Linked DNA regions of Homo sapiens: region 1 is linked to region 2. The links come from fine-mapping of genetic effects on gene expression. A gene starts in region 2. The other region holds a variant in brackets. All regions are shown on one strand. Distances are from middle to middle. Region 1 overlaps FAM114A1 (family with sequence similarity 114 member A1). Region 2 holds the start of FAM114A1 (family with sequence similarity 114 member A1).

Evidence for each region. PIP is the estimated chance that this variant, and not a neighbour inherited with it, causes the effect.
Region 1: its variant is fine-mapped to the expression of FAM114A1 in nucleus accumbens (GTEx, PIP 0.93).

The regions. Positions count from the first base shown.
Region 1 is chr4:38,904,011-38,909,391 of GRCh38, reverse strand. It overlaps FAM114A1 (family with sequence similarity 114 member A1), which reads right to left. Exons shown (of 15, transcript NM_138389.4): 5 at 3,757-3,870; 6 at 3,531-3,637; 7 at 666-800. Among named protein-coding and RNA genes, the nearest start is that of MIR574, 39 kb to the right of the region's middle. RefSeq lists an enhancer at 5,198-5,367. The variant C/T (reference allele first, on the strand shown) is at 2,370.
Region 2 is chr4:38,864,595-38,869,975 of GRCh38, reverse strand. It overlaps FAM114A1 (family with sequence similarity 114 member A1), which reads right to left and starts at 2,170. Exons shown (of 15, transcript NM_138389.4): 1 at 2,142-2,170; 2 at 1,430-1,578. It overlaps MIR574 (microRNA 574), which reads right to left and starts at 1,944; the gene lies at 1,849-1,944. It also overlaps a transcript of TLR6 not described here. RefSeq lists an enhancer at 1,036-1,619 and silencers at 1,827-1,876, 1,927-2,406.

The DNA.
Region 1 (5,381 bases), 39 kb before region 2:
TTCCAATGAGATACCATTTCCACCTATTATACCGACACATAATAACGGCAATGACAACAACTAACATTTCTGAATGCTTACTAAGAGCTGGGTTCTATTCTAACTCAGCGTATCCTCACAACAAAGTTATTGGTAGGTATTTAAATTATCCCCAGTGTACAGATGAGTAAGCTGAGGCACAGAGGGGCTAAGTAACTTGCCCAAGGTCACTCAGCTACTAAGTGGTAGAGATGGGATGCATACCATGACATAAATGGATCATCTTCAAGAAATAATATTAAGTGAATTAAGCAAGGAACAAGAGTGTGTTTAGTATGTTACCACTGGGTTGAAAAAATATGTGTGTATTTATGTGCATGTCTATCCACATGCATACATATGTACTTTTACATCTGTATATTTATGTATAGCTGCATCTATAGATCTATATCCATATCTCTCTGCGGTCTCTGATAGAATCCTTAAGGAACTGTTAACTGGTTGTCTCCTCTGAGGAATTAAGTGACTGGGGAAATGGGGGTATTAGAAGCTCAGTTTTCTCTCTCTGCTCTTTGGTGTCATTTGATTTGAATCACATGCTTTAAATGAGCTATTCAAAAAGATAAATAAAAAATTTATTTACTTTATTGACTGAAAGAAAAAATTGCAAACGTATATAATCCAACCTGAGACAAGGAAACAGTTCTCTCCATGAGCGTCTTGGTCCGCTTAAAGCCCGGGTCACTTTCTGCAAGGACATTCATGGTTTTCTTGCCGATGAATTCCAACGCATCAAGGCCTCCAGTTAAGACACTTTTACCCTGCAGATGAGATAACTGCATGAGATTAGATGTTTAGGTTTTGCTGTTTCGCAGCAGTCAGCAACTCCTAGGTAACTGGCACTATCTTCAAATATTAAAATCAATATAAAGTCACAATTTTTTCTCATCAGGAGATTTATCATCCATTTAATCCTATTCTCGTTTCCTTGGAAAAGCATATGTTATATAATTTGTAGGACATACAATGTTATTAAAGACTGATGCTTAGAAAAAAACCAAAGCACATAAAATAAAATTAATCCCACAAAGGGATTAATTTTACTGGCTCTCTGTGTATGAATGGATGTGTATCTAAGACATAAAATTAACATAAAATAAATTGCTAAGACATAAAATTAACATAAAATAAATTGCTGTTTCTGTTTAAAAATTTTTTTAACCCAAGTAACAGAGTTGCTTGGAGCAGTCTATTAAAATGTCAAACAGTCCTGCTAATTTAGGGAATTCTTTAATCTAGGGCCCTGGAGGGTAAGACCCTCAGGCTGTTTCAGATGGTTCTTGCATACTCTCAGAAACTAGCAATAACTGCCTATAATTAGTATATCCATGAAATGAGACAGGTTGATTTCCTTGTACTTCTGGCTTTAGAAACTGGTGTATTATATAGCTATCCTCCTGCAAATCCCTTTGTCAGTCATTGTTGCTTTTTTTAAAAAATTAAAATAACCCAGACTTACTCACACATAAACTATTCAAGTGAACAGAACTGCATACATGTCTTTGCAACTCTTTCATACTTACACTCCAACTGTATAACTGCAATTATAATATGCATACATCTGTGTTTTTCCCCACCATATATAAAAATGATATAAATTGTATTTTATTATGATATTATTACTGATATGCATTTTCCAATCTTCATAATTATCATTTAAATAGAAGTATTTAATTTCATAGAATTAATATACTTTATTTTCATCTTGGGTATTTAGACTTTGTTTTTAGATTTGGGAGCCAACCAGTAATCATGCTGTAAATCAGTTTTCAGTGCGCACACTTCGGGGGGATGATGGGACAGCAGCAATTCACACTTCTGTGTAATTTGACTTAGTGCCTGCTAACATCCTATGAAAAATTATTTTATTGAGAATAAAATGGTGGAAGAAAGGACACAGGGATTTGTGTTAAGGATAGACTTGGAGGGGTAGTGTCTGGAACTTGGGAAAAAGGGGTCAAGAAGGTTGGAGAGAACACAGAAAGGAATGTGAGGCTGCTGAAGACAAACTCATAGTGCCCTCTTGGTAGCTCAGATAGGCCGTGAATTCATTTCTTATACCAGAGGTACTGACAGAGCTCCATCCATCTCCCATCCTACAAACCCCCCACGGGGGTGGTTGACTTGTATTGCTACTTGACTCCTAAGACAGATTTGCTGCTCCTCCTTACTTCCCCCACCCCAGTCTAGAGGTCCTCAAATAGCAAGGAGAAGACCAGTCATTTTCTATATTTCTGGCATGTCCTGACCCCAAGGTCTGGGTGAGATCCTCTCATGTTTGACCGCAGCCCTCACCTCTTCCCGAATTACATTGTGTTTATTTGTTCAGT[C/T]GCCTCAGTCCTCTGGGATATTGTGCCCTCTTGTTTGCCAGCATATATCCAAGATCTAGCATAGATACTGGAACATAGTGAGGGCTAATCATGTTTGTGTTGTTGTTTTTCTTTTAATGAATGAATGAATGAATGAATGACTAAATGAGACACGAGCCATATTTTTAGAAAAACTAGTTAGTTTACATAGTAAGAAATACACCTTCACACCTGTAATCTCAGCACTTTGGGAGGCCGAGGCAGGAGGATCACCTGAGGTCAAGAGTTCAAGACAAGCCTGGCCAACGTGGTGAAACCCCATCTCTACTAAAAACACAAAAATTAGCTGGGTGTGGTGGTGGGCACCTGTAATCCCAGCTACTTGGGAGGCTGAGGTGGGAGAATCACTTGAATCAGGGATGCGGAGGTTGCAGTGAGCCGAGATTGCACCACTGCACGCCAGCCTAGGTGACAAGAGTGAGACTCCATCTCAAAAAAACAAAAGAAAAAACAAAATAAATCTTTGCTCCCTGACCCTGATGACCAGCTACCTGCCTTATCTCAGTTGAGGTGCCTCCCCTTTTTTCATTATTCACCAATGTTTTGCTGCTAATATGGAGCTTCTTCTAAGAGGTAGGCAGGGATCTAGGGGGATACACTTAGGGTGGTGTAAGGAGGAGGAAGGGTGGGAATGAAGAGGTAGGGATGGGGGAAGAACGCTGGTCTCTGGAAACACTTCAGAAACATATTTGGGCTGTTTTTCCTGTCTTGTAACGGGTACTTTTTATTTAAACGGTTTAATGCTTTTTCAAACTCAGGGATAAGATAAGCAGAGCATTTAGGAAAAACAGCTGTCCCAGCTCTGATAAAGAGTTCTCTCTCCCCTCAACCAGAGGCTGTCCTTGCCGCAGCTGGAAAGGACACTGTTAAATCAGACTGAAAAATGTTCCTTCCAAACAGCTCCCTTCTTTTAAACATAAAATATATTTCATTTTGCCCTTATTATTTTGAATCCAAGGTTACGTCTACTTTGTAGCAGAAAACATTAAAAAAAAAACCATAATCCAAAGTTCTGAGCAAGGCCATCGTTTCTCTGATGTATCTAGGTCACTGGTAAATGGAAATATCAAAAGAAGGCCCTGGGAAATACAGGGGAAAGAGAGGAAGCAGCCAGCGACTCACTGTGTTTTGAACCACATTGGTGATGGCAGACAGCATACCCCGAGAGGCTGATGAAGGGGAAGTGGGTGGGCTTTCTGCAGGGCCCTGATCTGTGGCTGCATCTGTTACTAAAGAGAAAAAAGAAATCCTTTAAGAGTTCACGTCGCTGATCTGAACTTGGAAAACCTCTGATTATGCACATGGTGTAATAAAGTCCAAGAACACCCAGAGGAGACACATCACTCACTTTCAGGGACTCCGTTTTCAGTATTTGGTTGGGCTCCTTCAGAAGATCCAGAATTTACACCATGAATCCGTAGAGTGGCTCCTGCTTTTTCCTTGACTGCCGTCAATCCATGACCTGTTGGAAATAAAAATATGGTTCATGGATACATTAGAAATCCACGGTCTGCAAATCCTCCACCAAATCTTACAAAGCTGTTTCAAGTTGCAGAAGTACATCTTTCTTTTTTTTTTTTTTTAAAAGATGGAGTCTTGCTCTGTCACCCAGGCTGGAGTGCAGTGGTGCAATCTTGGCTCACTGCAACCTCCGCCTCCCGAGTTCAAGTGATTCTCCTGCCTCAGCCTCCCTAGCAGCTGGGATTACAGATGCACACCACCACGCCCGGCTAATTTTTGTGCCTTTAGTGGAGACTAGGTTTCACTAAGTGTTGGCCAGGCTTGTCTTGAACTCCTGACCTCAGGTGATTGGCTCACCTCTGCCTCCCAAAGTGCTGGGATTACAGGTGTGAGCCATCGCACCTGGCCTGTAGAAGTACATCCTGATTGAAAGAAAGAGGAATCCCTGCTCCCTGAGATGTGGGTTCCAATATGAGCTCAGTTTCACCCCTGCCTGGTTGAATGACCTTGGAGAAGTTACCTAGCCTCTCTGTGACTCAGTTTCCTCATTGAGTTATTGTGACGTGCAAATGAGATACACGTAGGTAAAGTGCTCCCGGATGCTTCACTGTTTGCTTTTGCTTCTCACACCACCTAGCTATCAACCTGGAATTCTAAGCTCAACACAGTCTTTGTATAGTGTACCTGTCTCATCCTCTTTACTCTTTTGTAAGCTCCTTATGGAAGATATTCTTCATTCATTTTTTTGATTCCTTGCAGGCTTAGCACATTGCAGATGATCAATTAATATTGGTTGGATTGAAATCACCTGAGCCTCAGAATGTTTCTTTAAAGCATTAGGCCTTCCTTTAGGCATGGAGAGTGAAGGTCCTGGAGCTGACATCCAAAAATCAAAAGGCAAGTCAGTGGAGAAACCAGGAAGGCCACCCAACAGCCCCGACAGTTGTCTTAATAATGATATAAATCAACCTTAACAGCAGTCAGGCAGGCGAAGAGCACAGGTTTTACTCCATCTAAGCAGGGATAATACCCTTGTTCCCTGAGCCAGGCAGAGCGGTTATTCAATAACTATTTGGTAAATACAGAGCTGACCTTCCTACCCACAGGGAAAAACCCCAACCTTTGACCTGATACGGACATAGTCTTGTCTACATTTTATTCTGGAGAGATTTTCCTCCCTTTGAGGCCTTCACGATGAGCTATAGCTTTTCTGAGTTGTCAAACTGTTGAAGGAATGAATAGCCTACGGATGGTCCAAAGTGGCTGTCTGACTTCTTGAAGGAGAAACAGCACAGGCTGCCATCATCACAGAACTCCCCATCCCCCGAGCACTCACGGAGAAAATGAAAGATTTCTCTCGGGACCTGGGTGACCTCAGGTTGCTAAAACACAAGGCAGTAATATGAGGAAAAACGTCCCAAGTCCCAACAGAATTTGAGAGCTAACTAGAACCACCTAGTCTTAGAAGGCACTGTTAAAATAACCAATTGCCCATTTCCTGAATAAGAAAGG
Region 2 (5,381 bases):
AAGTCTGTGATGATAGAGAAAAATGAGGACAAGATTGCAAGTTTTTCATAAATCTAAATTTATTAAATGTAAAGGACTGCCTTCATCTTTCAAGTTTAGCCTTTGTGCTTTTTCTTGGTATTAAAATGTCTTTCATTTTATGAAATAGTGACAGTGGATGGATTTTTTTAAAAAAAATGGCCTGACTTGGCAGCATAAAAATTTGGTTAGCATGATATCCTGTGTGAGGTCATCTCCCCCAGTTAAAAAAAAAAAACAAAAACAGTGCCAGTCAGCGAAGGACCAGGAATAAAAACTCTGGATGAGAGGCTCTTAATCAGGTTGTAGCAGTTTGTATGAGTTTGTATAAAGCTTGACAAGTCTACGTACCCAGGCTCCAGCCTATTCTCTGTGAGGCTGCCAGGCATTTTTGGACCTATTTGCTCTCCTGTTCAAAAACCATTAGGTGTAAATATCTTCACACTTCCCATCATAATCCAGCTCCAATCTCTCTCCACCTCTTGCAACTCTCAGTATCCTCCACTCCTGCCTCACCAGTCTTTTCTCCATTCCCCATAACTCTTCACATCTCCCTGCCTTTGCTTACGCTGGTTCCTCTGCCCCGGTGCTGCCCTTCCTCCAGCTGCCTGGCAAACTCCTATTCCTCTAGACACCCAGTGTCTAATGTTACCTTTCATTCTGAATTTTTCCTTAATCTGCCCCACTGCTTCCAATGAAATAACTGCTACCTCTTCTATGTTTTTGGCACTTTGCACAGATTTCTATTCCATGTATTTATGGAGTATTTACTTCTGCCATTCTGTCCTCCAAGACTGTGACCAACAGCACCTAGGTTGGTTTCTGTCCCTCAGATATTTACTGAATTGAAATACATTGTGTTTGATATTAATAAAAGAGAAACCATGTTTGATGTAAGCCTGGTCAAATAAACAAAGACAAGTTTACTTTTATGGTCTGAATCGCTCAGATTCAAGAAAGCCCCCTCCAACCCTCAAATTCCTTCTGCACTGTCTCACTTGTGCCTCAAATCCATCCCTAACGTCTCATTCCTTCACTTAAAGGTTACAATGTAAGAAGTTTATCAGATTCTTTCCCAAGCTCAGGCTTGATGGAAGAAAGGAGGGCGGGGACGCAGGCCTATGGGTGGGGTAGGGAAGGAGCCACTAGGCTGCAGAGAGGGCAAAAAGAGGCTCTGAGGATAGAGCCTGTCTCATTCTCAGTTGTCACAGGTTGGCTGAGGTCACAGGGAGTTCAGAGCACACTGATTTAAGAAGCCACCTGCCTGTGTCCTTCAAGATGTTTAGGATGGGAAATGATGGGATCAGTAGGGCATAGGTAATGCTCTCACAGCCCATAGAGAGATGTCTTCCTACTTAAGAAAAGGCAGTGACGTTCAGGCGCCTGGTCTGAGGTGCCTGGAAATACTCACCGGATGGCAGAGGCGAGGGCTAGCCGACTGGGTGGAGGGGGCCTGGGGATCTGCGGTAGGGAGTGGGACCCATCCCGGGGGCTGCGAGTGGAGGCGGTGCCTGCTTAGAGTGTTGGCTGGACTGGAAGAGCAGGCAGGGCGTGGGTCGGCTGTTGGGGGAGGAGTAAGGCGAGGGGAGCGGGGAGGTCAAGGCCTGAGCTCCCTGTGCCAAGGCCGAGGGCAGGCGCACCCTGGGACGAGGCCTCTGTCTTACAGGGACCTGCTCCCTTCGTGCCCGGGCTGGGGGACCCTGCAGCCCACCTCTGACTTGGCCCCGAGCCATTGGGGGCACTTTTCCAGACTTGCTTGGTGCCAGGACTGGATACTTTGGGAGATCCAGGCAGGCTCCGCGGAGGTTCACGCAGGCCGAGGGGGCAGACCCTGAGTGTGGGCGTGTGGGTGTGTGCATGAGCGTGGACCCGGAGCGACACACACTCACACACACACACTCACACGCCCGCACCCACGCAGGTCCCTCGGCCGCGCCGCCCCAGACCCTCACCCCAGAGCCGGGTCCTCCCTGACCACTGCTTCTCACTAACGCAGAGGGCAGGATTCGTGGGTCCCGGACGAGGCGCCAAGGTATGGTGTTCCCACCACCCCCGGGCAGCCGCCCCCGCGCTCGCCCGCCCCCCGGGGAAGGGGATGGGGACCGAGTGCCCGGGGCTCTTACCGCTCAGGCGGCCGAGTACGCGCGGGAGTGCCCAGCGGGTCCCGCCCCGCCACGTCTGCAGGGCCGGCGGGGACGCGGCCGGAGGGCGGGCGGCTGGAGAGGGGGCCCCGCCCCGCCTGCGCCCCGCCCCACGAGGAGCGCCGCGGGGACGCCCGGCCACCCCCACGCTGCGAGGGCCGGGCCCGCGCTGGGCGAGTCTCCTGGAAACTTGGCTTGTCCCACCCCTGTGCCAGCGCGGAAAGCCAGAGCGCGCCGCCTCTCCAGCCCAGGGCGGGTGGGTCTCGGGGTTCGCCAGATCCCTTTCCTTTCCTTAAAAGGGCTTGGAAAACCCCCCGCCGTGTCACTGGGAAGAGGTCGCTCAAATTCAGCTAAAGTTTGATCTCCTGATTCTGCGTTAAGCAGCACTCCCTTGCCCTGTCGGTGGGAGTGTGATAGATTTAAAACAAACAAACCCCAAACAAACAACGAAAACCCACTTTCCAGAAGGCCAGTTTGGAGCTGTGGGTTAAAACTCCGATGTATTAGCTTTGGCCTAGGAATTCCACATTTGTGAATTTGTCCTAAGTAGGCAGTCAAATGGGCAAATATGTATGTACAAGGATGTTTGTTGTAGTTGTTTCTGCGGGGGGAAGCCGGAGACAATCTCAATGTCCCCCAGTAAGATTGGTGAAGTAAGCTACAGTAACTTCAGACATCGAATATGTTGTAGCCCTTAAAAATGAGGATTCGTTGACATGGAGGGAAGGCCACATATGAAGGCCTTCCTCAAATATGGCTTAATATGAACTCAGATGCGGAGGAAGCGCAGTGTTTATAGTATTAACTAGTTTTGTAAACAATTTTGTATTTTCTATAAAAGTCGGAGGAAATACAATTTAAAAATAGTGATTCTTTCTGAGCGATGTGTTTAAGGCAGATTTTCTCCTCTCTCACTCCATCCCTTCTTCTTTTTGAAGAATTATAAATTCAAAGTTAAAGAAAAAATAGCCCTAGTCTCTCCCTTTCAATATCACTACCATTTTTTATAGTGTGTGGATCCTACCATAGTTTTTCTAAGCTTATATAAATACATGTATGCATAAACAGCTTTTTGTTTGCTTTTTTATAAAAATGGCGAGATGTTGACGTATTTTGTAAATTTCCCCCTATTTATTATATATTATAATCATCTTTCTTGGTCAATACATATCAACCAAAACCACTCTTCTAAGACTTGTCTTATATATTGCAATATGTTTGTAATTATATTTCATTCAATCATTCTCCTATTGACAATTAGTTTGCTCCTTATATTCCAGTTTCTTCCATATATATATTAATTAATTTATTAATTCATTTTTTTGAGATGGAGTCTTGCTCTGTCGTCCAGGCTGGAAAGCAGTGGCGTGATCTCAGCTCACTGCAGCCTCTGCTTACTGGGTTCAAGCAATTCTCCTGCCTCAGCCTCTTGAGTAGCTGGGATTACAGGTGCGTGCCACCACACCCGGCTAATTTTTGTATTTTTTAGTAGAGACGGGGTTTCACCATGTTGGCCAGGCTGGTCTCGAACTCCTGACCTCAGGTGATCCACCCACCTCGGCCTCCCAAAGTGCTGGGATTACAGGCATGAGCCACCGTGCCTGGCTATATTTCTTATTTAATATTTTTATTAAATATTTTTATATTAATAATTTTTTAAGCTACTGAATATTTATTTTATTTTATTTTTTAGGAGGACAGAGTCTTGATCTGTGGCCTAGGCTGCAGTGCAGTGGCACCATCTCCATCTCCTGGGTTCAAGCGATTCTTCTGCCTCAGCCTCTTGAGTAGCTGGGATTACAGGTGCGTGCCACCACACCCGGCTAATTTTTGTGTTTTCAGTAGAGACAGGGTTTTGCCATGGTGGCAAGGCTGGTCTCGAACTCCTGACCTCAAGTGATCTGCCCACCTCGGCCTCCCAAAGTGTTGGGATTACAGGCGTGAGCCACCACACCCAGCCTGTCATTTTTAAATTCATAGAAAAACCAGAAAGTTATCTTAATGTGAGAGTGGGTGGAAACTGCTTTAAATTGAGATCAATAGCCTTTTTGAATTGAGCGAGACTTTGAACCTTAACTAACACGTGGCTTCTGTAACTCAGTTTTTCCACCTCTAAAATAAAGAGCATTGCTCGGCACAGTCCCTTCCAGTTCTGGCTTTGCGAGTGTTATCAAATTATGTTCCAGTTGCAACAGGTGTGTTTTGGTGTAGCATATACACAGACGTCTGTGCCTGGGACTTCTGCTCCTGCCCAGAGACAGCAAGCACCTTTGCTAACCTGCCTTCCCTTCCCTGCTGTGCCGTAACAGCCCAATCAGATGTTCTCTTTTTAAAGGGCTGAGTTCCTCTTCTCCTTTGACCCAAACCACACCTATCCAATAAAGAAAATAAAGCAAACTATCCTGGCAACAAGTTTGTTTTTTGTTTTGCCCACTGCAAATTTGTCCCTTTTACTCATGTAGCTGCTTCCAGGACTACCAGATTTTATTTCAGATATTTTATTTATTTGCAATGTAAAACATTTTAAGTTCATTTAAAAATTTTCTGGAGTATTTAAAATATATAGAAAAGTAAAGAATAATATGACAAATACTTATTTGTGTAAAAAATATAGGAAATACTATGATGATATCTAGATTTAACAAAATTTTTTGCAGTATTTATTTTAGAATTTTCTTTGCAAAGAAAAAAATGTTACGGATATGTTTGAAACCCTATCCCTTCCATTGTCCACCATCTCTGCAGGTAGCCATTTTCTTGAGGTGGTTGTATATCCCTCCCACCCATATTTCTTTCTTTCTTATTTAGGAATGAGGTCTTACTCTGTCACCTAGGCTGGAGTGCAGTGGTGTGATGACGGCTCAGTGCGGCCTCAGACTCCTGGGCTCCAGCAATCCTCCTGCCTCAGCCTCACAAGGAGCTAGGATCACAGGGTGCCACTGCACCCAGCAAATTTTTAAATTTTTTTGTAGAGTCGTGGTCTTGCTGTGTTGCCCAGGCTGGTCTCAAACTCCTGGCTTTAAGCAATCCTCCCGCCTCAGCCTCCTAAAGTACTGGGACTACAGGTGTGAGCCACCATGCACAGCCCCCCTCACTCATATTTCTAAATGTTTGCTGCATATGTCCTCACCCACAAATGCACGTATAATTGTTTTTCAATGTTTTAGAATATTAAGGACATCCTGTACACTTGTTAACTTGCATTATATTTTTGAGAATCAT